Linked DNA regions of Homo sapiens: all the other regions are linked to region 3. Evidence: fine-mapped expression QTL. A gene starts in region 3. Each other region holds a variant in brackets. All regions are shown on one strand. Distances are from middle to middle. Region 1 has its middle 17 kb from the start of C12orf71. Region 2 overlaps TM7SF3 (transmembrane 7 superfamily member 3). Region 3 holds the start of MED21 (mediator complex subunit 21).

The links. PIP is the estimated chance that this variant, and not a neighbour inherited with it, causes the effect.
Region 1: its variant is fine-mapped to the expression of MED21 in pancreas (GTEx, PIP above 0.99).
Region 2: its variant is fine-mapped to the expression of MED21 in caudate (GTEx, PIP above 0.99).

What each region holds. Positions count from the first base shown.
Region 1 is chr12:27,094,375-27,104,829 of GRCh38, forward strand. It overlaps the pseudogene LOC124902904. Among named protein-coding and RNA genes, the nearest start is that of C12orf71, 17 kb to the left of the region's middle. RefSeq lists an enhancer at 9,641-9,810. The variant C/T (reference allele first, on the strand shown) is at 4,411.
Region 2 is chr12:26,993,413-27,003,867 of GRCh38, forward strand. It overlaps TM7SF3 (transmembrane 7 superfamily member 3), which reads right to left. Exons shown (of 12, transcript NM_016551.3): 2 at 9,824-9,978; 3 at 6,114-6,264; 4 at 3,330-3,450; 5 at 1,825-1,996. Among named protein-coding and RNA genes, the nearest start is that of TM7SF3, 16 kb to the right of the region's middle. The variant A/G (reference allele first, on the strand shown) is at 5,335.
Region 3 is chr12:27,017,367-27,027,821 of GRCh38, forward strand. MED21 (mediator complex subunit 21) reads left to right here and starts at 5,192. Exons shown (of 4, transcript NM_004264.5): 1 at 5,192-5,255; 2 at 9,054-9,168; 3 at 9,981-10,081. The coding sequence starts at 5,214. RefSeq lists an enhancer at 5,224-5,513.

The sequences.
Region 1 (10,455 bases), 77 kb after region 3:
TGATCAGAACTGCATGTCTCAGATTTTATTTTAGAAAACCATAGGTATGGAATATCATATTTTATTATGAAGGCCTTTTAATTTGCTGCTTTATAGAAGTCTCAACTCTAAAACTGTACTCATGGTCATCATCCAGTGTTCTTTAGAAATGGCATCCTCATCTGCCCATCTTTTCAGTACCACAGGCTGGCCTCATCCTGGACGTCATTCCTTCTCTCACACACTTTCATTCCTGCATACAGTCACTCAGAAAGTCCCGTCGGTCCCATATCCTAACATATGTTACATCTGTCTACTTCTGTTGCCTTCACTACCTCCACCTGGTCCAGTCTACCAACTCCCAACTGGCTCTTCCCACATCTTCTCGGGATCCCTTCTGGTTATTATTGTATAGGAGGCAGAGAGACTTTTTTTTTTAGAAACACAAATCATATTTAGGTACTTAAGACCTGTCAATGGCATCTGACTGTTTTTAAGATAATCTTTAAATTCTCAAAATGGTCCCATGGGCCCTGCATGACATGGCCTCACCCACATTTTCAGGCTCATTTGCAGCCATTTCCCCTTTTGTTCTCTACACTCCGGTCCCACTGACTGTTTCACTTCCTGAACTGAAGGTGTTTAAAGCCACTGCTCTTCACGGAGATAATCCTAGATGAATATCCCAGGGGTATCCATAGAGAAGAGGGTGAATGTGACACTTGCAGATGACATTTTAATTAAGATTAAAACTGACAAATGGCCCCAGTCTATTGCTTTTTGAAAACAAGGTCTTGGGAAAGAACCACTACTTGTCCTTGGAGAGCCTGGGCGAATTAGAAAATGGTGCCCCTCCAGGTGAATGCAGCCCCCAAGCTGCATGGATTGGATTTCAGCGTCTGTGCACCCAGGGTGAGACACTCTGTGAAGGACATGACCTGCACAGCCAGAATGGTGACCTCCTCTGGAGATCTCAGTCAGTTTGCTTCCAAATTAAAACAAGTTTGGAAGCAAATTTGGCTAGGATGACATTGTATATTTACCTTTCCAAGCCAGCATGGTTCTGTCTATGATGCTAGTTCTGTAGCTATTTTTCAGAGTTGAAGACCAGGTGTGATTTACAACCTAGAGTGTCTCTAGCTGCTGGCATCTAAGTTTGGCACTGAGCACTTAAAGTGCCCAGACCATGATGTTTTACTGTGTGGAGGAAGGCCTCGTTGGAGAGGCACAATGTTTTTTCATCTGACATGTTTGCTCTTGTGGAAATGGCTTGAAGTATTTGAGTGCTGGCAGCAGAAAACATGGGAGGAGACTTAATTCTTGCTGAGTATGAATGATCCTATACAAATTAAAACTGATCACTTTTAAAGGCCGTATAAAACTATTCATCAATCATTAGATTGCTTTGATGTATATATCATATATCTGTGTGTCTCTACCAGGATCCTAGCATGAACCTCTCCCTGAACAAACACTGAATAAATATTGCTATGATTTTGCTTATACTTTTGTCATTGACTTAGAGACAGTTTTGTTTCTTGTTTTTAACTCTGTGTTGAATATGAGTTCAGTTAGTTTTCTGTTTTTTATGTTTATGGAAGTACCTCAATTTTACTAATGGTGAGGCGGGGAATATAGGAAAGTATGAAAAACAACCACACATGCACAATTGCTTTGTAATTTCAAACTCTAATGGACACTCTCTGGAGGTGATTGCCATATCTCTCAGTAGGAACAGAATTTGAATCTGGGAGCAAGTAATCAGTCTGTAAATGTTTGTTATGATACTGGAATTGCCAAATATGCTGTATCTAATTGAATTTCATTACTGGGGCATGAAAGGCAGTTGGCTGAATGTTGTCACTGAAAAGAATATATTGTGGACAGCAGATTGTTGCCTATATAGTGCTTGTATAAAAACCCTATATCCAAATAAGGTCACATTCTGAGGTTCTGGGGCTTAGGATTTCAACATATAAATTTTGGAAGGACACAATTAAACCCATCACACCATCCATAGTTGAACCTCAACACAAATTAGCCTCAGAAATCAAGCTGTATTTATTTTGTGTTTTTTTAGCTATGCTTATTTTGGAATTGTATATAAACTGAACCTATTTCCATAAAGTAGTTGAATTTTATTCCTTTTTTCCAGACCCAATAGACCTCATGGTATTAGTTCTGCAGTCAACATTGTGCTTGCTCTCTCTCGCTCTCTGACTCTCTGACTCTATCTTGCTCTCTCTCTCTCTCTCATGTTTCATGAGTCATTAGGCCAAAAAGTATTAGGTAAATGAAAGCAAATATGACAGCAGCTCCTTGAACAAGGGGACCACTTCTTTCCCCCTCAAGTCCATGACCTGTAACATGTCTAACATTCCAGTTCTGAGGATTTTAAAAGTAGTTAGTTGATCTGTAGTGTGTTTTCACTTGACATCTTGCTTTAGTTACGCCATTCTTGCATATCCCTCATTTTCCACATTAGCCTCGTTTAGTTGTGCAGTTTTGACATTCACAGCTCTCCAGTGCTTTGGATTGAATGTTTATACCAAGAAATTGCAGCTGGCTTTTCTAGCAGGTCATTCTGATGTTGTCCAGGGATGCCATCAGAGGTGCAGGTTCTTGAAGCACCTTTTATACTATCTTCCTTTTCTACTCTGGGCCTTTCCCAGTTTCTGGGAGGTCAAGGCATCTGCCAAGCCTCTCTCTCTGCAGCCCACTGACATCAGGCATACTTGTATGCTCCATCTGTACTTTATTGCTTTTTGTTTGTCTGTTTGTTTGTTTGTTTGTTTGTTTTGAGACGGGGTCTCACTCTGTCACCCAGGCTGAAGTGCAATGGTGCAATCACAGCTCACTGCAGCCTCGACCTCCCAGACTCAAGTGATCCTCCAACCTCAGCCTCCTGAGTAGCTGGGACTACAGATGTGTGTCACCACACCCAGCTAATTTTTGTTTGTTTTAATAGAGATAAGGTCTCACTATGTTGCCTGGCTGGTCTTGAACTCCTGGGCTTAAGCGATCCTCCTGCCTCTGCCTCCAAAAGTGCTGGGATTACAGGTGTAAGCCATGGCGCCCAGCTCCACCTGTACTTCAAAACTCACCCTACTCCCTGTTCCCGAAGCATGTCACGTGCTAATGTGACTGGTATGTACCCTCTTAGCTTCTGGGCCCTGAAATACAACCCATATTTTGTTCCCCCTATCCTAAGAGATCAGGTGGAATGGAAGATTGTCTCCCTTTTTATTAAATGAGTCAAATTTTGTCTCTCCTCAAGTATATTCCAAAATATCAGTAACCTGTTAATAAAACGGCTTATCCCTTCAGAAAACAGAATTTAGGGTGGGTTAGATAATACACATAATCATCATCATCATCATCATCATCATCATCCATACCTCTCTAAGCCTGTAGCAGGGTGGAATAGCATGAGCTATTGATTGTATCTGAGCAGAGGAATGCTTGGTACCCCATATCTCTAGAAGAAATTAGGTGGCTTGAGAGGCTCTTTTAGGTCTGAATAATTTCAGTGCCAAAGACCAAAACCTCTTCATAAACTGCAGTTAGACTCTCCCTGATTGCCATGCCTGGCTTTCTGTTGGAGAAAATCCTAGAGGAAAACAGAAACTCCCAAGGAGCTGGGTAGCCAAGAGAGGAGCCCAGACCTTCCATCTTCCATCTGGTGACCTGATGGTTCTGGCATTTGACTTCTCTGAAGATAAGAAACCCTGGGTATTACACATAAATTCCAATATCTGAATTGACAAAAGTACTCTCTCCAGGGTAGATATGCTATCAGAGCTTAGATGTAAGGATGTTTTAAAAATTTCATTCACAGAGCTGAAGTGTCAGGCCCAGCAATATTTCTTTGGCCCTTGACGTCAGTCCTGTGAGCTAGCTCTCCAGCACTAGGGACTATTCTTGTGTTTAGTTTTACCTCCTCTTTCTTGGGGTAGATCACAATCAAATAGCTCCCAGTTCCTTCCTTTGGGAAGACAATGACCTTGCCTTCCCCACACACATCCATAAAGCACTACTCCTTGGACTCCACACCCCAGGTCCAGAATAGTCAGGGTGGCTACTCTAGGACTAATCTCTCTTCCTATCTCCTGGTAAAATGGTTTTAGTAGATATTTGTCCCTAGCAGCTGTTAGTTTCCCCTCTCATCACTATATTAAGACATCCTTGGCCATGCATGGTGGCTCATGCCTGTAATCGCAGCACTTTGGGAGGCTGAGATGGGAGGATCACTTGAGCCCACAAGTTCAAGAGCAGCCTGGGCAACATAGGGAGACCTTGTCTCTACCCAAAATAAAAATATTAGCCGAGTGTAGTGGTACATACCTGTGATTCCAGCTACTTGGGAAGCTGAGGCAGGAAGATCACTTAAGCCCGGGAGGTTGAGGCTACAGTGAGCCATGATTAGGCCAC[C/T]GCACTCCATCCAGCCTGTGTGACAGAATGAGACTTTAAAAAGGAAAGAATAAAAAACCTTCTAGCCCAAGAATTCTTTAACTTTTTGCTTACACATTTGGGCCTTCCTTATTTTTCATAAGGAAAAATAAATTTTAATACTCTATTACTCTTTAATAGAGGGCAGGAATTGAAGCATCCTGAGATGAAGATAATTCAAAGACATCCAATACAGATGGCATAAATAGCAAAACTTTGAAAAGTATATTGTTCCCCAGCCTTGTTTTTAGGCTCAAATAAACACCCCATTAAGTAGAATGTATACCCTGATCACTTAGAATACTCAAGTTTCGAGGTGCCACTTAAAAATAAGGCAGATGCTGTACTTAGCTAGGGAAAAGGTATGTCTCTGGCAGGTGGGATCCCTTCACCAGGTCCATGAGATGGACTTAATTGGAAGCAAATACAGAATTGGAGATGGTCAATCAAACGGAAGCTCCTCAGTTCCTAGATCAGTTTCTGGTACATGGTAAGTGGGTAAATGGTAGGTAAATGAGATATACTCCTTGAGTAAAGTAGGTAGGTAGGTAGGTAAATGAGAAATACTCTTTGAATAAAGAGTAGGCAAATGAGAAATACTCTTTGGTAGGTAAATGAGAAATACTCTGTGAATAAAGTACAGTTGTCCCTTGGTATCCATGGAAGATTTTTTCTAGGCTCTCCTGAGGATCCCAAAATCAATAGAGGCTCAAGTTCCTTATATAAAATGATGTAGTATTGGCATATAACCTACATACATCCTACTATATACATTAAGTCATCTCTAGATTACTTAGAATACCTACCACAATGCACATGCTATGTAAATAGTTGCTATACTGTATTTTAAAATTTGTATTTGTTTTTCTTTGAATATTTTAAATTTGTGGTTGGTTAAATTCATGGATATGAAATCTGTGGATATGGAGGGCTGACTATACATATATATATATAATTATGTATATGAGTAAATGTATGAATTTATTCATGTCACTTTGGAGCACTAGTCATGAGACAGTAAAATGTGGAAAATCCTGACTATATTGGTCTTTTGGTAGCCCTGCCCATGTCACTCAACATGTAGCTGTGGTAAAAGCAAGTTTTCAAGTTCCTGTCAAGACAGTTCAACACATTTCCTCTCTTCTGCTTCTCTGCCTCCCTCATTCCCTCTCTTCTTAAAGTTATGGGTTGTCAGAACTTTTATTGAAATGAAAACAAAATCTAAGTTGATACTCTAAGACATGAAAGAGTCAGAGTCTAACAAGTCCATTAATATTCTATTCTTTCCTCTGCAGTACTGCAAAGCATGTTTGGTGGTGATAAAGGAATAGTTTTGTTTTGATGGATACAAATAGTTATTATTTATTTCATGATCACCATGGTAAGTGTAAACCAAAAATAAAATTCCAACCACCTGAATGGACCCCTCCTCTCGGCCAAGGGCATTCCAAAGTTAACCCGAAAAACTAGTTTAGGCCATGATGGGAAGGGGGAGCCCAACATTACTCATTATTCCCTCCTCCTTTTTGGAATTACTGATAGAATAATCTTTTAAAGTCTGATAAGAAACATTGACAGTCTATTCTCTGAAGCTTCCTACCTGGAGGCTTCATCTGCATGATAAAACCTTGGTCTCCACAACCTCTCATCTTAACCCAGACATTCCTTTTTATTGATTCTAAGTCTTTAGATAATAACAACTTTTTTAACCCATTACCAATCAGAAATTCACTGAATCTACCTATGATCTGGAACTAACCACCCTAGTTGTGCTCCCTTTCTGGACTGAACCAATGTAGATCTTATATGTATTGATTGATGCCTTATGTTTCCCTAAAATTTATAAAAGCAAGTTGTAGCCTGACCACCTTGGGCACATGTTCTCAGGATCTCCTGAGGGCTGTGTCATGGGCTATTTGTCACTCATATTTGGCTCAGAATAAATCTTTTCAAGATATTTTACTGAGTTTCACCCTTTTCATTGCCATAGATCTGGTATAGAAATTTTAAGAATGGGTCCTTAGTCCTTAAAAAGCTTGATTTAGTACAGGCAACACTCCAAGGACCTGGTTAGGCAAGACTGCTTGCCAGAGACATACTTTTTCCTTAGCCAAATATAACATCTATTAGAGATAACCCGTGGTTCCATATGGTACTTGGTAACAGAGGCTGAGAGAGAATGGGTGTGGGGAGAGACAACAAGTGCTATAGGAGTACTTGATGATGTGGTAATCTTCCTTGAGTATTCTGCCATGACATTCAGTTTTTATATATAAGATCCAGGCACAGTTGTCACTGGGTATTCATGGGGGGTTGGTTCCAGGACCTCCCACAGATACCAAAATCCAGAGATGCTCAATTCCCTGATATAAAATGGCATTGCATTTGCCTAAAACCTTGGAATCTCCTCCTGTATACTTTATATCCTCACTAGATTACTTATAACACCTAATACAATATAAATGCTATGTAAATCTTTGTCGTATTGTTTAGGGAATAATGACAAGAAAAAGTCTGTACCTGTTTAGTCACAGACGCAATTTTTTTTCAAATATTTTCTATTCATGGTTGTTTGAATCCACTGATGGGGCACCTATGGATATGGAGGGCTGGCTGTATTTCATCAAATTTCAGTGTAAAGGATGGCAGGGTAATGACTCACCTAGATGATACTTTTATAGTTCCTCCTGTTTCCTTCCTTTGGTGGATGAAGGAAATGCTGTCATACTCAGAAGTTGAGAGTGGGCAGTTACTTGCCTCAGTAAATGGCCACTCCATCCTCCTATGGCTTAGGCCATAGTCTTGAGTTCATCTTTTCTCCCAAATGCTCTATCAAGTTCTGTTAGCGTTTATAACAAAAATATACACAAGGCAATAGAAACGTTGCTATCTTGTTAGGGGTATGTTCATTTGTCAGAATGCATCAAACTGTGCAGCAAAGAGCTGTGCATTTTACTCTCTAAATTATAACTTAATTCATATGTGTAATGCATCCTAATATGTATGGTAATATACATTTTATATTCAGAATATATATATAGCAATATGCATTTTATGTATGTATATATACATATTTACTATATGTGTATTCACACATACGTACATAGCTAGTGTCCAATCACCATCTCTACTGCTCACACCCTGACCCGAGCCACCAACAGAACCTCTCATCTGAATTGTTGTAGTCATTTTTTGACTGTTCTTGTTTTTATCTTTGCCACACCTGCAGTGTGTTCTTAGAAATGATTCTTCTTCTTTTTTTTTTTTCTTTTTTTTGAGATGGAGTCTCGCTCTGTCGCCCAGGCTGGAGTGCAGTGGCGCGATCTCGGCCCACTGCAAGCTCTGCCTCCCGGGTTCACACCATTCTCCTGCCTCAGCCTCCCGAGTAGCTGGGACTACAGGCGCCTGCCACCACGCCGGCTAATTTTTTTTGTATTTTTAGTAGAGATGGGATTTCACTGTGTTAGCCAGGATGGTTTCCATCTCCCGACCTCGTGATCCGCTTGCCTCGGCCTCCCAAAGTGCTGGGATTACAGGCGTGAGCCACTGCACCCGGCCAGGAATGATTCTTCATAAAACAGAAATCAGATCATGTCATTCCTTGGCTCAGAACCCTCCAGTGGCCTTCCATCTCCATGCTCAATTGAAGTCAAAGCCTGGCTGCCATGGCTTGTGAGGCCCCAGATCCCACTACCGCACCACTCCCACCACACCTTCTGTGCCTCTGGGACCACATTCCCTACTAACCCCCCGGCTCACCACCTTCCAGCCCACTGACCTCAAACATCAACTACATGAAGCTCCCCCTCCTCGGGGCCTTTGCACTTACTGTTGTTTCTCCCTGGAATCTCTTCCCAGATATTCCTGTGACTTTCTCCCCTCACCTTCTTCAAGGTTTTAATCAATGTCACTTTACCAATGGGGCCCTCCCTGATTATCAGATCAAAACTTCTAAGTCCCTGCCATTCCCTTTCTGCACGAAGAGCTGGCACAGTATATAATTAAGCGGACATGCTCTGCTGCCAGACTGTCTGACTTCACATCATTTTTCTAGCTGTGTGACTTGGTGCCTCAGTTTGATCACTAATAAAGTGGGGATAAGTATCGTGTCATTAGGGTTATTGTAAAGATTAATTGAATTGATATATGAAAAGCACTAAAAAACAGTGCCCGGTACATAGTAAGCTAATGTTAATGTTATTCCTCTTGCTTGCTTCATTATTTTTCCCATAGCACTTATCAATCACCCTCTCATCTGCTATGTATTTAAACTATTTTTTGTGGTTTCTTGCCATTAGAATGTATGTGCCATCAGAGCAACAACTTTTTACTTTTTTTCCTTTTCTATTTTCTTTCTTTGCTTTTTCTTCATTACTTTTTAAATTCAATTTAAAAAGAAAATTGAGTTGCCAGCTTCACCACTTAGAATAGTGCCTGATATACAATAGGTACTCAATAAATATTGTGTAATCAGTGGGTGAATGAGAGAAGAGTCTGTGCACTTTCAGGAGGCTGTAGGATAAGGTAGGTTAGGGAAGGGGCTGGAAACATTTTCTGCAAAGAGCCAGATAGTAAATATTTTAGGCTTCGTGAGTTACAACTACTCAACTTTGCTGTTGTGGCATGAAAGCCACCATAGATGATATGTAAACGAATGAATGTGACTGTGTTCCAAAGAAACTTTATAAAAACAGGCAGTGGGCTAGATTTGACCATAGGTCATAGTTTGCCAACTCCTGGGTTGGGGAATAATTTTTGGCCTTACTTTCCCCCTCATTACTCCTCCCTTCAGCCAGCAATTAGTGCTATTCACTCAGAACTGAAATATGAATAATTTGAAAAGCATTACATTACCCCTTAGTATTTGGCTCAGTATACAAATTTTCCATATGTCTCTTAATATTTTATTAGGAAATAACAATGTTAAGAATATATTTTGAACTTTCCAGCTGTACAGTTTCAGGGCTCTGGTTTTCATTTCTCTTCTCCAACAGCCGAAAACTGGTGATTCTGGCCAGGAGCACGTGTGCTATAAAGGAACAAGCAGTGTTGGCATTCCTCTTACTGTATGGCCAAGAGTGTAACTGACACCCAGTTGGAATAGAAACCAACAGAAATTACCTACAAGACAAACTGTTGAGTTTATAAGATTATTTATGAAAACTTATTCCTCCACAAAACTGTTTCCTAGCCCACAGTTTTTACCAGTCTTCCCAATCAATTTTATATGCTAGCAAGTTTCTTCCAGCTTTTTAATACAGTGAGTTTTGACCATGTGACAAACTGAAACTTTAACACAAATTATATAGCTTTTATTGGTGTAATTAAAGCAGGTCAGATGATGCATCATAATTAGGCAAATAAGCAGTCCAACTATGTGACTGCAACTGATGTAAATTTTATGCAACCAGAAATGGTTTTTGTGTCACCTCTTCTGAACTTAGCAGCCCATCCTTATTGTCGGTGCTAACAGTTTTCCACTTGCCGTTTAATTGTCTTCATCATTTTATATGTGTGGAAAGAACAAACCTGGACCATACTCCCCATTTGTTGGGGTTTTCTTGCTCCCTGTGTTGCACCTTTTTACAGCTGTGGTCCATGGCTGCGGTTTCCAATCAGAGTGTGATGTAACCTACTCCCAAGACACCTGGCCAATGTGCCTCATTTTGTTTTCCATCATGAATTAATCTGTTTTCTAAAATTCAATTTAAAAAGAAAATTGAGTTGCCAGCAGAACTATCACATAATTGGATATCACAGCAAGGTCAAGTTGCTATGCAGTTGTTAAAGTGGTTATTCTCAATTTCTGTACTTATAGTAGACCAGCAACAGTTCGTGCACCAGCTCCAGTCCACAGACCACATTCTAAGCAACACCACTTCAGAGCAGTGGTTTTCAAACGTTTTTATCCCAGTATAAAGTATGCATTCTTAGGTTGTAAAACACATGAGTGTGTACATGCCTGTGCAGACACACACACACACATACTCTGAAACCACTGGAATGTCAGCCACCTAAAGGCAGAGC
Region 2 (10,455 bases), 24 kb before region 3:
CCTGTAAATAGGGAATCCAATGGACTAAATTCAGGTTAGACATTTTTTGCTAGAATATACCACAGGTGATGGTGATAATGTCAGACTGCACTACATAAGCACGTAATACAGGCTGATCCATTTTCAGTGAAACTAGCTTTGCCCACCTGGAATAGGTGGAGACTATAAGGTCACTCCATGTTAAAGTGGTTCTCCTTTTACAATGAGAATTAATCTAAGGATGCTACTTAGACACCCTAGAAATATCCTGTTCCCCAAAAACCTTTCACCTGCTGATCCTTGCTGGAATTATTTCATTGAGGGTCACAAAATGGTGATCATCTAATTCTATTATTTCTTCTACATATATTAGCCAGCACTCTTCTGCAAAGAGCTTTCTCTCACCAACTGGGGAAGAATTAGTTCCTCCTTTAAAAAGGCAAGCTAAATTTCTTTATCAATTTTTAGAGTAATTTGCTGTAAGAGTCTCCTCCAGTGGTGGCAACTGAGGAAGGTTTCATTTGTATTTATTCAAGGCTGACAACCACAGTCTTTTTCTTGATTCTTGAACTGCCCCAAATTTGGCAGTGCAAGCCCCTTCAAACAGGCTCCTGAATCTCTTTGACATACCCTCATTAGTCTTTGAGGGTTTCCCCACATTCTGGTACAAAATATTCTTTTAACTAAAAGTTTAAAAGTAACCTACAAAAAGCCTATTATACAAGTTCTTATATTCTTCATAAAAATAATAATAGTATTAAAATGTCATATCTAATAAAGCAACTAATAAACTTTACTAACAGAGCTTCTTATTTTGTGAATAAGCACAATGACGCTGTCTAGAAAAACTCCACCCATCAACCATTAGACTGAAGGATGACCTCATATATTATATTGCTGTTAGGCACTTTTCAAGACATAAAGATAAAATCCTGCCCTCCACAAAAATGATCTATTGCAGTGAGTCTCAAAATTTAATATGCATAAAAATCACCTGAGGGCTGGAGTGCAACAGCACCATCTGGGCTCATTGCAACCTCCACCTCCTGGGTTCAAACAATTCTCCTGCCTCAGCCTCCCAAGTAGCTGGTATTACAGGCATCTACCAACATGCCTGGCTAATTTTTGTATTTTTAGTAGAGACACGGTTTCACCATGTTGGACAGGCTGGTCTCAAACTCCTGACCTCAGGTGATCCACCCGCCTCGGCCTCCCAAAGTGCTGGGATTACAGGCGTGAGCCACTGCACCCAGTCAGAATCACCTGAGGGATATAAAATGCAAATTCTGATTCAGTAGTTCCAGGGTGGAGTTTAAGAATTACAATTCTCACAAACTCCCCAGTGATGCCAATGCCACTGGTCCATGGTCCACACCTGGGGAGCAAGGGTTTACATGGATTCAAAAGCTCAGAGAAGAATTTTACTCCAAGTTAGACTTTGAGTTTGGGTTCAAATATGAATGCCAATGTGTATATCCTTAAGCAGTTTCTCATTATTTTTTTCTCAAAACAATGTAATCTTCATACTTGCCAAAAATGTTTACCCAGTAGTCGTGGGAGTACACAGAAAATTACCACCTCCTTCCATTCACATTTCAGATTACCAAGTCACAGATGTGGCTGCAACTAAAACGTAACATAATTTACATGCATCTCCTCAAAGGCCAACATCATTTTGAGATATCACCAGCAAAGACTCCCAAGATGATAACAAAAGAGAATAAAGTGAGTGTCCCCCAAAAAGGAGAAAAGAGTAAAGAAATAAGATCCTGGTAGCTTCTCCCCTTCTCAACTCTGACAAAGGTGTCACAATCCAGCCACACAAATCATGGGACTCAGATTTACCTTGAGAGCACTGGCCTTCACCTGGGGCACACTGACCATCCTCTGCAGATGCTTCAGCAACATCTCCTCAGTGAGGTCATTCTCAGGCAGAAAATACTGATAGACATCATACTGCAACCTCCACCTGGAGTCCTGGTCTGTCCCAGCGTCACATGGTGGGGGATCTACGCCTCTAAAGTCAACCAACAAAATGAAACATCAGTCTCTTGTGGTGCAAGTCCCATCTATAAAAAGGAACCAAGAGCCCTAATTTCAAACACTTGCAACAATAATTACAATTTAACAGTTCACCTTTTGCAGTGGCAACAATTGGTATTCTGAAGAAAAGTAATGCACTGTTATGGACTGAATGTTTGTGTCTCCCCAAAATTAATATGCTGAGACCCTCACTCCCAGTGTGATGATATTAGGAGGTGGGACCTTTGGAAGGTAATTAGGTCATGAAGGTGAAGCCCTAATGAATCGAATTACTGCCCTCATAAAGGAGATCCCAGAGAGCCCTCTAGCCTTCTTTCTGTCATGTGTGGACACAATGACAACCCAGCAGTCTGTAACCTGGACGAGAACCTTCACCAGAACTCAACTGTGCTGGCATCCTGATCGTGGACTTCTACCCTCTAGAACCATGAGAAAGAAGTTTATAAGCCACCCAGTCTGTGCTACTTTGTTACAGCACCACAAACTAAGACAAACACCAACAGGCAAAGGTGATTACATAACTGGATTCTGATATCAGTCAGGCCTAGAGTAAAATACTACAGCTCTGGGGAGGCAAAAAAATTTTTTTTAAAAAAAAGCTGGGTGCAGTGGCTTATGCCTGTAATCCCAGCACTTTGGGAGGCTGAAGCAGGAGGATTGCTTGAGCTAAGAAGTTCAAGACCAGCCAGGGCAACATAGAAAGACCTCATCTTTGATTTAAAAAAAAAAAAAAGAAGAAGAATATAGCAGATTTGTCATTTGTTAGCAAGTAGGGTAACCTCCATAACCCCTAGGGAAACTTTCTGTAAAATAACAGCAATTGCCCTTCTTCATAAAATTGTTAGGATTAAATGGCAAAGAACATAACAACACTCAGCACCACGGACAATGCACAGGAAGCATTCAAGTGTTCTCAAATGTTAGCTATCATTACTATTAAAGCAGAAACTGAGGCACAGCTTTAATTAAAACAATGAATCTTTATAAAAATAAAAGGATGTTTCAGGGCTACTGAGTGCTATCTATATTTAAAGTGCTTTATAAAAACCAGGATGTATTTTCAAGCTCATAATAGACTCACATCTGGCTCTTCAAATAAAAAGAGTTCACAAGAATGAAGTGGGAAAATATTAACTGTAAATGACAGTCCAAATATTAATAGTGAAGTTTAAATTACATCAATTCCCCCCAAAAATTAACTCAATTTTACTACAGAGAATTAGGGACTTGAGAGAGCTGGTCAAATCTACACAACTGTCGTCATGTATATTCTAAAAGCATTTCTCAGACATGGGAGACAGACGTACCTCGCATAGCCTAGGTTTGCTGGGGCAAACTTGATAGTCGTTTCAAAGAAATTATACTCCAAGTAAATGTTGGGATCAATATCTAAATCGAACTCCAAATTACAGCCTCCAGGGACAGGATCTGGATAAGAAATAGGGAAGTTACTAAACAAACAATTCCTACATATCCAAATCATACTCAGAAAAACAGAACTCTATCTACTCTTACAAAAACTTCCCAAATAGAAGTTAAATATAAACGTAGAGCTTCTAGTCGTATACTATTTCATGAACTGAGGTTAAAGAGGGTAGAGTTAACTGAGGTTCAGGGCCCTAGAGCAGGGCAGAGCCAAAATTTTCTGTAAAAGGCCTAATAGTATTTTAGGCTTTGTCAGTCTGATGGTCTCTGCAGTAACTACCCACCCCAGTCCTTGTGGCAGGAAAGCAGCCACAGGCAATACGTACAGGAAGAGGCATAGCTGTGTTTCAGTAAAACTTTATGTACAAAAACAGGCAGCAAGCTGGATCTGGCTCATGGTCTGTAGTTTGCCAACCTTTCCTCTAGAGTTAAAAAGATCGGCTATTGGTTGACTACTTCTGGCCAGGTTTGGAATGCAGATACACAGTGTGTATATATGTTTCAATATCATGTTGGAATCTTCCTCCAAATTCTATGCTCTTCTTTCATACTCTCCTTTTTCTGCACTTATGGATCTTTACCACACCACAAATGGTATGTATGCCAGCTGAAGCTCCTCTGTTCATAATTTTTCTTTGTACACTGTCCTTGACGCAAGCCTTAATTAAGTCTATGGTTTCTTATCAGGTAATTAGCCTTTTGTTATAGCTAACATTTCCTATCTTCTACTCCAGTAATCTTCTGGATTCTCCCTCCTTTCCTAACTAGCGCTCCCTCTCCTTCCCTTTACCCCCAAGCTTTAAGAGTAGTCTAAATTTATTCACCTCACCTTCACTCCTCCATCCCTGTTGTGCCACTAAAGTGACTCTCATAAAGGGCCACCGCTGACTCCTACTTGCTCTAGCATACGGACACTTTCAGTCAGTTCTCTTGACCTCTCCGTAGACTGTAACTTACCACTTCCTTTTTTTTTTTTTTTTTTTTGAGACGGAGTCTTGCTCTATCACCCAAGCTGGAGTGAAGTGGCGCAATCTCAGCTCACTGCAACCTCTGCCCACCGGGTTCAAGCAATTCTCCTGCCGCAGCCTCCTGAGTACCTGGGATTGTAGGCACCTGCCACCACACCTGACTAATTTTTGTATTTTTAGTAGAGATAGAGTTTCGCCATGTTGGCCAGGCTAGTCTCAAACTCCCGATTATATAAATTATACCTGCAACCTGCTTCGGCCTCCCAAAGTGCTGGGATTACAGGTGTGAGCCACCGTGCCCGGCCTGCTCCCTTTTAAAGGCAGAAACTCCAGGCTTTCTTCCTACCTTCTTGACTACTCCACAGTGTTGTGCTTATTCCTCAGGAGTTATTATCCACCAGAAACAGTGCCTGACACATAGTAGGCACTAGTAAAGTATTTGCTATGATTTTTTTGCCCTAAATATCCAAGTACATGCCTGGATAATCTCACTCACTGCCACAGCTTTTATTAACAGCTATTTAGTTGGGAATCTAATCTCACCCCTCCACTCCAGGCCCTTATTTAAATTATGTACTCTGCATTTCCATCCAAATGTCCTACAAGCATCTCAGACTGTGTCCCAAACTGAAGTCATCACCTACTCCGTCCCACCTCCCAAAACATCCAGCACCACCATAACCCTGTTCCTACACCTATTTTGTATCACTATTTCCCTGCTGCCCAAATAGGAAACCTATGCTTCCCTCTTATACTCCATAACCACCAGTCATTGTGTTGTATCAATTCCACCTTCTGGATATCTCAAATCCTGCTCCTCTTCTCCATCCCGCCTCTCATGGCCTCTGTTCAGATCCTCATTTCTCATTTTGTGCTGAGTCCTGACTCTGCTGCGCCCTCTCCAATCCATCCCCACACT[A/G]CTTCTAGAGTTAGCTTTCTAAGAGATGAAATGGACTACACCATTCCTCTGCTTAAAAACTCTATGCCTCCTTAGAACCTACCTCGAAATAAAGTACAAACCTCAAATTGTATGCAAGGCCCTCCACACTCCAGCTGCAGCCACACTCACAACGTGCCATTCTCCAAATCATTTTTCTTCATGACGTCGAGCTTACTGCTTCTGCTTAGAACAACTAAACTGTTAAGGACTATGTCTTGCCTTAACTATTACTGCTTCTCCAAGGGCTCCCTAAATGTTTTTCGAATGAATAAACATGTTCTCCTAGTCACTACCTGAGCTTTCAGTCATCGTGCTAATTCTCTTACTATAAAATATTTCTGATTATAGGCTGGGCGCAGTGGCTCATGCCTGCAATCCCAGCACTTTGGGAGGCTGAGGCGGGCGAATCACAAGGTCAGGAGTTCGAGACCAGCCTGGCCAACATGGTGAAACGCCATCTCTACTAAAAATACAAAAAATTAGCTGGGCCTGGTGGCGGGCGCCTGTAATCCCAGCTACTTGGGAGGCTGAGGCAGGAGAATCGCTTGAACCCGGGAGGCAGAGGTTGCAGTGAGCCGAGATCGCGCCACTACACTCCAGCCTGGGTGACAGTGCGAGACTCCATCTCAAAAAAAAAAAATCCGATTATATAAATTATACTTGCAACAAACAATCTCAATAGGATAATTTTCCTTAAAGTTTCATGAACACATTCCATATTCCAAAGAGTAAGAGGGAGGAGAAGACAGAAGGGTTACCTCTTTCTGAGTAGGAGAGTAGGATAGCCATATTCTGGACAGGCTGTATGCCTGAAGTCCCCAAGTACCAAGTGCATGTACTCTGCTCTGGTCTAAGGATGAAAACCAGTCCACTGGCAGTGCCTGTTTCCGAGGAATTGGAAAGGAGAGTCTGCAGTCCAGAAGAAACATTGTCATGAATAGGAAGTCGACCAAAACATAAATTACTGAGCTGATCCAGTGTGCATGTCCTATTCCAAATCTTCCCAAAACAAATAGAAAAAAAAAACCTTCCTTAAATAACCAGGGAATTCTTTTCATCTCTATGTTCACATGCCCACACATATACATGGAAAAAGCATTCTTGAAAAATATACGATTGTCTTAGTTAAGGCTGCTATAACAAAGTACCACAGGTAAGGTGGTTATAAACAACAGAAATTTATTTTCGCAATTCTAGAGTCTGGTGGTTCATGATAGCGGTGCCAACACAGTCGGGTTCTGATGAAAGCTGTCTTATAGGCTGAAGACTCCCAACTTCTTGTTGTATCCTCACATGACAGAGAAAGGGCAAGAAACATATCTGGGGTCCCTTTTATAAGGCCACTAATCCCATTCATGAGGGCTCTAAATGGGGGCCCATGACCTAATCACTTCCCAAAGACTCCACTTCCTAATATAACACACTGAGGATGAGTATTTCAACTGTGAATTTTGTGAAGACACAAACATTCTGTCTGTAAAAATAATCTTTGATCAGGAATAGCAGATGCACAGTGAAATTCCCAAGTGTTTCAATTAATTTGAATTAAGATTTACTATGTCAAATAATGTTTTATCTTAGTTTCTAAGACCACTAGGACAAAAACATGAGACCTGGCCCCAAGGAGTTCAGTTTTCGAGGTACCTTTTAAATTGTGTTATAACTGACAAACTATAAACTGTACATAAAGTATAATTTTTCTTTTTTTTTGAGATGGAGTCTCGCTCTGTCACCCAGGCTAGAGTGCAGTGGCGCGATCTCAGCTTACTACAAGCTCCGCCTCCCGGGTTCACGCCATTCTCCTGTCTCAGCCTCCCAAGTAGCTGGGACTACAGGCGCCTGCCACCACACCTGGCTAATTTTTTGTACTTTTAGTAGAGACGAGGTTTCACCATGTTAGCCAGGATGGTCTTGATCTCCTGACCTCGTGATCCGCCAGCATCAGCCTCCCAAAGTGCTGGGATTACAGGCGTGAGCCACCGTGCCCGGCCCATAAAGTATACTTTTAAGTGTTGATATACAGACACCTGTGAAACCATTACCACAATCAAAATAGCAAATGTATGCATCACCCCAAGTTTCCTTGTGCCCCTTCCTAATCCTTCCTCACACACTTCCTCTCTACCATCCCCCACTCCCATCTGCTTGGAAAGTTTTTTGAATAATAAAATGCTAAGCTAAAAGGTAACAGACTCAAGAGGTTCTATCAAAGCTAAGGAAATGGGAAGGAAAAGGTAGCAGAGTAGTTTCAATTTGATAAGCATAAGAAAGAATGACTCAAATATTAATTGATAAATGATCAAGTCAACAGTTTCAAAGAGCCAATTGCCATCACGACTCAAAAAAAACAAAAGTGCCACACTTTATTAGGAAGGGCACAGGAAACAGAAGCACTTCTCTTTACACAGACCACTCACTTCCTGAGCCATGTGCAGTTCTGGCCATCATCTTCTAAGTAATATAACAGTGGGAACTAAAGGCAGTCCAAGAAATAAAATGATAATTAAGGACAACTAAGACCCTTTCTGCATAGAAATCAAGGCCCAAGATGCTGCCAGCTAGGTCTGTTTTATCACTGGTGATGCTGACATCTCTTTATCCAAGTTCTGCTTCCTCAGATGTAGAAATAGGCATCACTACTAATTTGTTGAGCTTTAATGAGAATTAACCATATGGAAACCAAACACAGGGGTTCCTAACTGGGGGCCTGAGAGTCTGAGTTTTTGAAGGGCCCCATGAAATTTTATATTTATATTTGAGTCCATAGACTTGAGCAGTCTATGGCTCCAGGAGCTTAAGAACCACTGGCCTAGGACATAGCAGGCGTTCAACAAATATAAACCCTTATTTCACCCATCCTCTCTCTTTTCCTTCAAATGTTGTCTTGCTGTAATGTCATTAGGAAGAAACACACTGTTTGTCAATTAAAAATTGTTTTAATAGATCTAGTTAAAAAAGAGAAGAAGAAAGAACTCATCTATGTGCCATTTTACTAAGTCTCCTATGTAAGAGTCTGAATAGGAAGCTGTCTTTTGAATTCAGTGCCATAAAAAACTTGGCCTCCCCTGAGGAACTGGCATGCTCCTTCCTTTCTAAGGAAGTTATGAAATTTAACATGCTTTACCTTCTGCTTTAGCTGCAAAGAACTTGGGCAAATTCGACGTATGTGTGACATCGGTATCTCTTGTAATTAATACTATTTATTCCTTTCCTTTTTTCCTAAGCTGAATTCTTCCATTTCTAGTCTATTAACTACCCCCCTACACACATACCCCACAACACACACGCACACACGTGCACAACCACATGCACACAATTTCCAAACCTCTATGGTAGGGGAAAGAAGGCAGGAATAAAAATACACAAAATAGTAAGAAAGATAGTGTGACCAATGCCTCTAATATTATATATGGGCTGGGGCGCAGTGGCTCATGCCTGCAATCCCAGCACTTTGGGATGCCCAGACAGGCGGATCACTTGAGGCCAGGAGTTCAAGACCAGCCTGGGCAACAGAGCAAAACCCCATCTCTACAAAAAAAAAATGTTAAAAATTAGCCAAGTGTGGTGACATGTGCCTGTAGTTCCAGGATCACTTAAGACCAGGAATTTGAGCCATGATCACACGACCACATTCCGGCGTGGGTGATGGAGTGAGATCTTATCTCTAAAAAAAAAAATAAAAATTTTAAAAATTTACATATGAATTAGATTAAGACAGAATTGTTTACCAAATTCCAGAATATTATAATATAGGCTTAGGACAAATAAAAAGAAGTATAACTTCATACAAGGTGAAATGCATGTATTGGTCTAGGGCATCATAGAGACTAAATGCAGATAGATTGTAAAAGATTATATAAATGGCAGACTCTTCATAGCTTAAACTAACCCAGAGAATTTTAAAAACTTTCTAAGGCTGAGGTTGAGGTTAAGGGGTTTAGTGATGACATCTATAATAGAGTCCTTAATACTGCTGGAGGCATAGCACAGGGCTGGATGAACTGAGCACTATAATTTTTTTGTTGTTTGCGTGACAGAGTCCAAAGAATAAAGTTGATATTATAGGGTTCTTGGTAAAGTTCAATACTATAGCTAAACAACAATGAAAACCCATTAAACATATATTCTCAGGTAAAAGTTATTAAGGCCCCACTAAAGTAAGAAAATGAAAAGGTGGGAATTCACGAAGAAAACTTGCCTGCATAGTGGTGACATTTGTCACAGGGTGCCCTTCTCCCCAGCTCAGCTCTCCATTACCCCTTTTTAGGTCAGAGACTGCCACACTCAAGAAAGGCCTGAGATACTCTCAGTCACTAACTTGAAAACATCCTATCTTGATTTTTTAAAATTTAAGACATAAGATCATAAACATAAAAGAGATAGAGATATCAAATTCTAATGCTCATACTAAATACCAGACCCCCAAAATATAGAAATGATTTTTACTAAAATAATTCTTTGCACTTACCGGAGAAAAGGAAACAGTTGTATTCTGATACTGTGAGTGTATTTGGAAAATAAGAAAAGTCACATTGCTTGAAATATCATGCAAAATAGCTTCCTCTGGAAAGGGCCTATTGAGCTCGAAGTATCTAAATTTCCCCACAGAAAATTCAATAAGACCTACAACGAGATAAACTTTTCATTACAACACTTGTACTCTCATATCAATTTGCAGAAATCATATTCATAAATGAATGTGGAATTTAATCCTCAGAAAAACTCCTTGAGGTAAATATGGTTATTGCTCCTATTTCACTGCTAAAGACAATGTGGCTTAAAAAGTGATGCAGCCCATCCAGGGTCATCCAGCCAGTGAATGGTAGAGCTCAGAACTAAAATGCAAGAGGTATTTCAAAAGGTATGCTGAAGACAGGCTCCTGGAACCCAGAGAAACTTCCCCTCTGGTAGCAGCAATAACAATGATCTCTGGAACAGAGTCCCTGAATTTAAAGATGACAATCCTGTGGGGCTACTAACAATCATGAATGTGCTGGTGTTAAAGAACCATAACCGTCTAGTGAATTCTGAAGTCAGCGTAGCCCGAAGAGACACAGGTGGCTGCAATTTAATACCGGTGTTTACCAGCTGTGTGATTTT
Region 3 (10,455 bases):
ACTGCTTCTGTGTCTGTTGTGCTTATCTGGGAGGGAGAGTTGTGTGTCTGTTCCCATACATCTTTTTGCAGCTGCAGGCATACCCCCGAGTCTGCTTTTAGCTTCCCTATCTTAGTGCACCTGAAGGGAAAGGAATGTACTTACTAAGGCCCACTGTTTTACTGGGGCCCATTGTATGAGGGTGAAGTTTGGCAGTTACCCAAGAGAATTTCCCCCCACCTCCCTTTGTGCCTGAGCTGTCTTATCTGTGTTTTACTGTCTGCTCTTTCTGGCTGCTTATAGTTAGAAGAGAAGTGATTTCCTTGAAATGCATGAGGCTAGAAAGGGAGCTGGAACTTAAAGTGGCGGTGTTTGTCCGAGATGACGGTGCTCCTGGTCTGTCACCAGACTCAAGCAATCCTGCCACCTCAGCCTCCAGACTAACTGGGACTACTACAGGCTCACACCACTGTGCCTGCCTTGTTTTCTTTGTAGTATGCATTCCTGGTTATGTACATAGAAAAAAAGGTTGAAAAATATATGCCAAAATGTTTAAAATAGTTATCTTTAGGTGGTTAAATTAAGAATGATTTCCTTTGCACATTTCTGTGTAAAAGTTCTACATTGAAGTGTATCATTTTTAAATAAGAAATTATGATTTTGTAAAAGATACATATAATTTTAAAGGTTTTCTTATAAAAGCATTCAAGATATAAGTCCACCTTCCTGAGTATGACACATAAATGCTTTTTGTGATGCAACTCCTGCTCACCTCCCTAGGTTCTTGCTGCAACTAAAATCAGACCTCTACATGCTGGCCACATTGAATTAATTTCAATTTCCTGAACTGAGCCTATTCTCTCTCCTCCATACCTTTGCATCGCAGTTCCCCAGGCCTGCAGTTGCCTGTGCATGCATGACAGTTGATGACAAATGTGTCAGCAATCAGAACAGGGCCTCATTACCTTGGCTTCTAAGTACAGTATTGTGACAGCTTGGGAGGATGATTGGCTGGGGTTCCATGCTCATGTCAGAGTTCCATTGGAGAGCTGAGAAGCAAACAAGCTTAGCAGCTTTGCAGATTAGTTCATTTTTCCTATGTATTGAAAGGAAATGCAGAAACTGAAAGATTCCCAAATCCAAGATATGCATCATTAGAGGCTTAAAGTCTGTTTAGGCCAGGCGCAGTGGCTCATACCTGTAATCCCAGTACTTTAGCAGACCAAGGCAGGAGGATCTCTGGAGACCAGGAGTTCAAGATCAGCCCAGGCAACATAGTGAGATCCCCATTCTTACACACACACATACACACACACACACACACAACCAGAAAAAAAAATTAGCTGGGCATGGTGGGGCACATCTGTAGTCCTAGATACACAGGTGGCTGAGGCTGGAGAATTGTTCGAGCCTAGGAGTTTGAGTTTGCAGCGAGCCATGATTATGCCACTGTACTCCAGCCTGGGTGACAGAGCAAGACCCTGTATCTAATAAAACAAAAGTCTGTTAAAATTTAGAAGAGGAAGGAAGGGCAGGAGGGAGAGAAGGAGGAAGGGAAAAAACTTACCCTAGCTTTTTAAATAAAACCTAAAATACCTTAAATGGAGCTGGGAGTGGGGATCCAGGGAAAAGGCAGGATTGAACCTCTGTGAAATTTGCCCATTCATTCTTTCCCACTCTAATCTCACCTTCATCCTGTATTTTTTAATTCTTATGCTCTTTTGTGGGTAGTAATTTACATTCTTTGTTCATTAAGTTAAATTCAGTAAATGCTTGTTTAGTAGCTATTATATGGAAATTATTATGCTAGGAAACTCATTCATTTGGTTGATAAATATGTGCCAGGCTAAAAGTTAGGTGCTAGGTACTGGAAATATGGAAACAGAATATGTTTTCTGCCTGCAAGTAGCCCATGGACTGGTGGGTGAATTAGCGTGATGTACAAATAATTACAGCACAGTATGCTAAGTGCAATAACAGAAGTGTAAGGAACAATTGTGTTAAAGATTGGGAGCATTTAACTTTCAGAATTCAGGAAAGGCTTTTATAAAGAGATGTTTAAAATAAGATTTTGTTCACTAGTATAGTGGCAAGTAAAAAAAATAATAATAGGCCGGGCACAGTGGCTGACGCCTGTAATTCTAGCACTTTGGGAGGCCAAGGCGGGTGGATCACCTGAGGTCAGGAGTTCAAGACCAGCCTGGCCAACATAGCAAAACCCCGTCTCTACACAAATACAAAAAACTTACCCAGGTGTGGTGGCGGGCACCTGTAATCCCAGCTACTCTGGAGGCTGAGGTAGGAGAATCACTAGAACCCTGGGGGCAGAGGTTGCAGTGAGCTGAGATCGTGCCACTGCATTCCAGCCTGGGTAACAGAGTGAGATTCTGTCTCAAATAAATAAATAAATAATAAAATAAGGTTTGAGTACTGTGTGGACAATCACCAAGGGAGCAAAGTGGAGATGTGGATGGAAGTGTAGGCATTTCATACAAGGAAGAAATAATTATAGGTGTTTTTATATGGTGTGCATTTTTGTAAAACAGCAGAACATGTTTAGGGAATTTCAAAGAGTGTGGTATAGAAAAATGCTTATTTATAGTTATTCATCCCGGCACTAAGAACAGTTTAGATATTTAATAAATTGCAACTGTGAGTATTAAAGTTATTTAAAAATTGCTAAAGGTGTTTTTCTTAAAAAATAGTTGCTACAGTCATAAAAACCAAAGCATTTACAAGATTGACTGAGTGGCTCACTGCTGAAGCTGTAAAGGGTATGCGAGGGTTCACTATACTGTCTACTTTTCTATATCTTTGAAACTTTTAATAATATAAAGTTTCAAAGAAAGTACTCACCAAAATTGTGTGTTTAAAATATGAGATCTGTAATACTGGGTTCCTGCTCCTAAAACCATATAATCCAGTTGGCGATGCAACAGAAGCAAATGGAAAAGCATATGAGAAAGTGTCCAAATCATGAAAGGAAGAAAGGAGAGGTCCCTATGGACTCTAGCAATTCATAAAATTTATATGAGAAGTGTACAGCTTAAAAAGGTAGGGTAAGGATTAAATAGCAGGAAAGAAATTGCTTTGGGAAAGGTAAAGAATGAGGAAAGAGCTAGACCAGTGGTTCTCAATTGGGGGCAATTTTGCCCCCCAGCAACATTTGGGACTATCTGGAGATACTTTATGTTGGCATAAATGGATTGGGGGGATGCTACCGGCATCTCAGGGGTAAGGGACAGGGATGCTCTAAACATCCTACAGTGCACAGGTCAGCATCCCACAGCAAAGAATAATCTAGCCTGAAAAGTCAAGAGTGCAGCCATTGAGAAATCCTGAGCTAGATGCACAGACTATATTTGGCAGGTGGGTTATTCTTGAAGTCTACAGCTTCAAGAGCTTCCTAAACCCCTTTTCAAATGTAGGCTAAGTTGAGAGTCTGGTCTGGGGAAAGGGTCCACAGCTTTTATCTGATTCTTAAAAAGATCCGTGGCCGAAAGAGGCTGAAGAACCAGGAAAACCAAGGGGTCAGGGACCTTGGCTGAAACAGATTATTTCACTCAGAAAATTATCAGGAGGTGAGGCTGGGTCTGTTTGCTGGAGCCAGATTATAGTAAATCTTGAAAACCAGGCAGAGATAGTTGGACATCAACCTGAGGTCTCTGTGGAGGCACAGAAGACCTATTAGGAAGATAATGGCAGGACAAAAACTGTGTCACAATATGAATGTCTTGAAGTGGCTTCTCTACTTCAACTGCCCAAGTTCCCTTCAATCAGGCTGCAAAACTTAGTATTCTTATGGAGTGGACTAAACTATATCCAATCAGTCACCAATCCATATTAATTTTTTTTCTCAAAAATATATTTTAGTCTTTCTTTCCCCGCTTATCAGGGTCAACACCCTATTCTAGGCCCAGCTCATCTTAATCTTGGACAACTGCAAAACCTTCCTTAGTGAGTCCTTGGCTTATTCATCTTTGCAAATTGAGCACTGGATATACTTCCTGGCATGTGGCAGCCATTCCGTAAGGTACACTCTCAAGTGAGGGTGGGAGGAGAAGGTTGTAGAATCCCCCCAAGTTACAGTGAAAACAAATTACAGAGTGATTTCTCATTAGTCCCATTATGGGGAACATGCCTCATCCACGTTCTTAATGAGGCTCCAGTAAGTCTGTAGACTGTTTGGGGCTGAGGGTGGGGCATTGGTGTGAAGCAGAAGTGGTGCTTCACAGTAAGTGTTGGGATAAATCCAACAAGCTGAGTTCCCCAGGGACTGTGTCTTCCACCTTCCCCGCAGCCACAGGAAGGTAATCACGGATAATCAGCCTGAGAAAGAGGATATGAGAGTTTTTTGAAGTCTACAAACCTGTTATTTGCCGATTCCAAACTCATTTCTTACCAGACTATCCTCAGGCTAAATTTCCTTAAATACCAAGTTTCGATTATCACTTTTCACACTTAAACTCTCAATAAGTCCCAACTCTAAATCTAAATTGTGCAGCTAATTTTTCTTGGCCGAGCACGGTGGCTCACGCCTGTAATCCCAGCACTTTGAGAGGCCGAGGCGGGCGGAGCACGAGGTCGGGAGATCGAGACCATCCTGGCTAACATGGTGAAACCCCGTCTCTACTAAAAGTACAAAAAAAAAAAAAAAATGCCGGGCGTGGTGCGGACGCCTGTAGTCCCAGCTACTCCGGAGGCTGAGGCAGGAGAATGGCGTGAACCCGGGAGGCGGAGCTGGCAGTGAGCCGAGATCGCACCACTGCACTCCAGCCTGGGCGACAGAACGAGACTCCGTCTCAAATAAATAAATAAATAAATAAATAAATAAATAAAAATAAATATATTTACTCTTCAATTTGGTCAATAAATAAACACGAGAGGGTACGAGAAATTACTTAAAAAAAAAAAATCCCCGCAGAATCCAACAATCTCTGAAGCCTTTAACACCTAACAACCCCAAGGGGAGTATTTCGGCTCTTGGACTGTATTTCAAAGCGATTGGACCCCAGACCATTCCCCCAGTTACTCAAAAGATCCAGCCTCTCCTCAGGTGTAGCCCGCTCTAGAAAGGCCGCCTCGGGAGTACCACCCACTCCTGACGGGGCGGGGAGTTCTCTCCGACCCCACCCGTTCCAAGGACGCAGCCCTGTGATTGGCCATGACGCGTGCCAGAGCTGCCCAGTCGCGGAAGAGCAGCTGTTTTGGCGTCTGTTTGCTGCGGTAGGAACATGGCGGATCGGCTCACGCAGCTTCAGGACGCTGTGAATTCGGTGAGGAATTTCATTCGATTAGCCTCTGTCTTTCTCTTTCTTGAGGTAAAGCAAGGGAGGAAAGGGGCCCAAGAGGCAAAACTTGAAAGTGGGGAGCGGACTGAGAGACAGGGCTTCGGCATAAAGCGCTCTCTCGGGAGGCGCCACCGCGAACTCGGAGGTTTGAGGCCGGCTGCCGGGCGGTGCTTGAAGGTGCGGGAGGGAGCAGACTCTTTCGCTTGAGGAGACCGGGAAGATCGTTCTTGTCCGGGTGAGGCCGCCAGGACTTGTGGGCTGCGCGGTCCTGTCGTGTTCCCTGAGGACAGTTTTATTTTCTTGTCAGTGGTGCTTACGGGTTCTCTTTCTTTTGGGGGTTGGGAGGAGAAGCAGGAGCTTTTTTCTTTCCTCATCAATTTTAATCCACCAAGGGAGATCTCATGCTCTGGATGACTGGGTTTTTGTAATGAAATGTCAGCCGAGAGTATTCCTTCACCAGCGCTTTCAGGTTGGTGCGGGAGCGATGCTGAGGTGAGGTGAGAGATTTTCTTTCATCTTAGCTCGTTCCTTTGGGCCCAGAGTATCCTTCCATCTCTTGCCTCTTGGCCATCCCTCAGAATACATCAGTTTGGGGACATCTTTATGATAGGAAATCTTCTAATCCTCGTATGTCTTTCCGCTTATTTGAGTCTTTTTTCTTTTCTTTTTTTTTTTTTTTTTACTTTGGAGACAGTGCCTTTCGCCCAGGCTGGAGTGCAGTGGCGCGATCTCTGCTCACTGCATCCTCCGCCTCCCGGGTTCAAGCGATTCTCCTGTCTGAGCCAAAGTAGCTGGGATTACAGGCGCCCTCCACCACGCCCGGCTAATGTTTGTATTTTTAGTAGAGACGGGGTTTCACCATGTTGTCCAGGCTGGTCTCAAACTCCCGGCCTCAAGCGATCCTCCCGCCTCGGCCTCCCATAGTGCTGGGATTACAGGTGTGAGCCACCGTGCCCGGCCTACAAGTCCTTTTTAATGTCTCCCCCAAATTCTACTCTCTATTAAAGGCCAAGTCTAGTAAGTAGCTCCCCAGCTTTGTTCCTTCTGGTTATTTTTCCTCCACACTATGCCTGAGTGGAAAGTAGAAGCAAAGCCAGAGGATGCGCAGTCATGGGCCCCTAATGAAGGGGTCATGTTCTGAGAAATGCATGGTTTTGGCGATAACTTTTTTTTTTGTTTTAATAAGTAGAAGTACAATGTAAAATAACGATAAAACAGTAATACATAAACCAGTAACAAAGTCATTTAGTATCATTATCAAGTGTCATGGACTGCACATAATTGTATGTGCTATGCTTTCATACACTGGCAGTGTGGTAGGTTGATTTACAGCAGCATCACCACAAGCACTAAGGAACGCATTGCGCTACAGCGTTAGTACTGCTACGATGTCACTAGGCAATAAGAATTTTTCAGCTTTATTATAACCATAGGGGACTGACATAATATGTGCATCCCGTTGACCAAGACGTCAGTGGGTATTCCCATGCGGCAATGGGTGTACTTATTACCATTACGAGTTAGATTGTTTTCTGCTAAATAGTTTTCCATTGATAGTTATGTTTCTCATTGTCTGATTGTGATTTAATGTCCTAGATAAGGGGCTAGAGAGAAAACATGCTGATAGGAAAACCTAAGTACCTGGTTTCCTTGCCAGTTTTTTTTTTCCTCACTGTAAGCTAATAACTTGGCATTTTTCTTAATACATCAGAATTTGTACACTTGAAGAGTGTGAATCTACTTGTGATAAAACTGATCTACCCTGGGTGAATAACACTAGTTTTTAAGCTGAGAGGACCAGCCTCTAAGTGTTGAATTCACCAAGATAAATTCTACCCTGCAGGGACTTGCCTGGGCTGCCAGCCAGCCTTCCTCAGGGAACTACTCCTTTGAGGTTTTACGAAATCAAATTGTAATGATGCTGCTGGATAGAAATCTTATTTTAGGGAAAATTTTGCATATTCATACATGTCTTGTAACTAGAAGGATAATAAGGACAGAGTGAATATGGCCTTAACTCCAGGTTAGGCATAATGATAATTGGATTTTGGAGAAAAGCCTTTAGGATAACTAGTATGAGTGCCTACTGTGTGTAAGCACCATCATGTTTACAAAGAGATACTCCTAAAGGAGGTTAAAAAATGTCAAATACTCAGGAGACATTTAAGTGATGGAAAAACAGTATGTGGTTAGGGAGTTATAATGAATTGAGTATTTTCAGCTTCAGGTTCTGATGTAAATTGGAATATGGAGTGATGTGAACCAAAATAGGGGGAATCTTCTTAGCATTTATCCTAATCAGAATTATTTGTATAACTTTTAACATTTGTTCTACCCTCTGAAAACCGTGAGTGCAGAAGCTATGTCGCATTCACTATGTCTCTGTAGTGTTTATATGCAGTACTTTAGTTATTTTCCATAAATTTTTGTTGACTAAATGGATCTTAAAAGCTTTTGAAGGATGGAAAAGATAGACACTGTGTTGAATATTTTTTTGTGTGTGTTTCCTCTATTACAACAATGCTATAATAGGAGAATGTATCCAATTTAAAAATGAAAAATGCTGCTTGGATTAATAGAGCTAGGATCAGGATCTAGGTTTGTATAGCATCTGAGCACTTATTGCTCCATTACAATTAGCAAAACCTGGGCAAAGCCATTTAGTCATAAGTGACTTTATGACTAGTTAGATAAATATGAAGGAGTAGTGGAAAACGAGTCAGTAGAGTTGACTTAGATTATTGAAAGCTTCAAAACAGCCTGAGTTGGAGATTTATCTTGAAGACAGTGGTGGAGTAAGCTTAAATGTTTTGATCAGGTTAAAATAAATAACCTGGTGAACTGGAAAACAACAAGAAGACTATTGTAATAATTCTGGTGTGAGATAATTGGTTGAACTAAGCAACAGTGATAGAAGGAAAAGAGAAAGATTTGTAGTATTAGCAGAATATGAAGATCAAAGGAAAGTAAGAATCTGAAGTTAGATTGGTTGACTAGGAGACTTTCAATACAAATTAAATATTAAAAAGAGGAAACAGTTGCCTTTGAGTTCTGTCATTGAAACAATGGCAGAGAAACCCAGTGGAAATACTTATTAGAAATAGGAGGTTTGAGAGGTCAAGACTAGGTGAGAGAAATTGGTAGGGAAGATAGGTGTATTTAATTTGGAGATGGTAAGGAATTGCTATTCCCAATCTTTAAAAGTACTTAAGGAATACTTTTAGAGTACAAGAGTTTACAAATTGAGTCTTGAACAAATACATTTCTGCTTACTTAAGGTGCTTTTCTGAGCAGCCTCTTCCTCACTATTTCTTTACACTTGTAACTACTCCAGTCTCAGAAAAGGAATCATATACTTTGTGCATGAGAAATAAATTTTTATTAAACATGGTGCCATAGATATTTACAAGTCAAATTTGCTCTTTTCCATCACTATCCCCAAAAAGTCTTTACTTGTGGCTTACAATAAGTATTGGCCAATATTCTCTTATCATTTTACTATCACAAGAAAAGAAAGATTATTTTGTATTTCAACTGTTTCAACTAGATTTATATCAAATTTAACTTTACCTAGATTGATACCAAACTTAGTTTCTTTGCAGAATTAAAACGTTTAATCAACATTAATAATAACTGGCTTATTTTATCAACAATCACTCCTTTCTGTTTTATTCCCTTGCTCAGAGATTATCATTACAGAAACTTATTGTTGTTGCCATTACCAATAAAGTCCTTAAAACTGATAAGTCCTTTCTAACCTTGATATGTTTTCTTTGGCCTAAGCTTGCAGATCAGTTTTGTAATGCCATTGGAGTATTGCAGCAATGTGGTCCTCCTGCCTCTTTCAATAATATTCAGACAGCAATTAACAAAGACCAGCCAGCTAACCCTACAGAAGGTAAACAGGTTTTCTTAGCTTCTCTTAGTTTGACTCTCACATTTTTTGTAATCCTTTAAAATTAGATTTCTTGAGAAATTCAGCTTATTTTATTTCTAAAATTATTGTTGTTTGAGAATATTACAAGTTTTGTTTGTTGTAAAAAATTTACAGTCAATTCACCTAACATCTCATAATTCTGGTTCATGTCAGATAATAGATTGTTACTCCTTTAGAGGAGAATTTGTATTAATTTAGCTGAGTGAGGGACCTTAACAAGGAAGGCATCCCATTTATAAATTTCTTTATTCAGGTGACCACTATATTGTCATAATAAATGAAATTACATACATTATGCTTAATTCCCAATTTGAGCTAAATGTGTAACAGGATTGGTGTATATTTTAATCATTAGAATCTTCTTTTTTTTTTTGAGACGGAGTCTCGCTCTGTCACCTAGGCTGGAGTGCAGTGATGCAATCTTGGCTCACTGCAACTTTCGCCTCCCGGGTTCAAGGAATTCTCCTGCCTCAGCCTCCTGAGTAGCTGGGATTACAGGCTCATGCCACCACGTCTGGCTAATTTTTGTATTTTTAGTAGAGATGGGGTTTCACCATGTTGGTCAGGCTGGTCTCAAACTCCTGACCTCGTGATCCGCCTGCCTTGGCCTCCCAAAGTGCTGGGATTACAGGCGTGAGCCACCACGCCTGGCCGAATCATTAGAATCTTAGGGCAGAAAAAGCTATATGAAGTTTCTGGTTTCATTAACTTAAAATTTGTTTCTGAAAACTTGAGGTTTTCTAATATCCTAATCTAGCAGTATCTTTCTCTAGAGTATGCCCAGCTTTTTGCAGCACTGATTGCACGAACAGCAAAAGACATTGATGTTTTGATAGATTCCTTACCCAGTGAAGAATCTACAGCTGCTTTACAGGTAAGCCTCTATTCCTTTGAGAATTTTACCAGTAATAGAGAATTTTGAATTAAAGGAGGTAGATTTAGTACCTTTTGTCTGTGTCCATTTGTGCTGCTATAACAACATACCTGAGACAGTAATTTATAAAGAACAGAAATTTATTTTCTCACAGTTCTGGAGTCTGGGAAGTCCAAGATCAAGGCATTTATTACTCACTGTGCATGAGTAATGAATTTTTATTAAACATGGTGCCATGTTTAGGGCCATGTTGAGGGCCTTCTTCCTGTTTCCTCACATGGCTGAAGGCAGAAGGGCAAAAGAGCAAGAGCTCCCTCTTCAACCTCAAGCCATATTTTAAGGGTACTAATTCCATCTATGAGATCTCTGCCTTC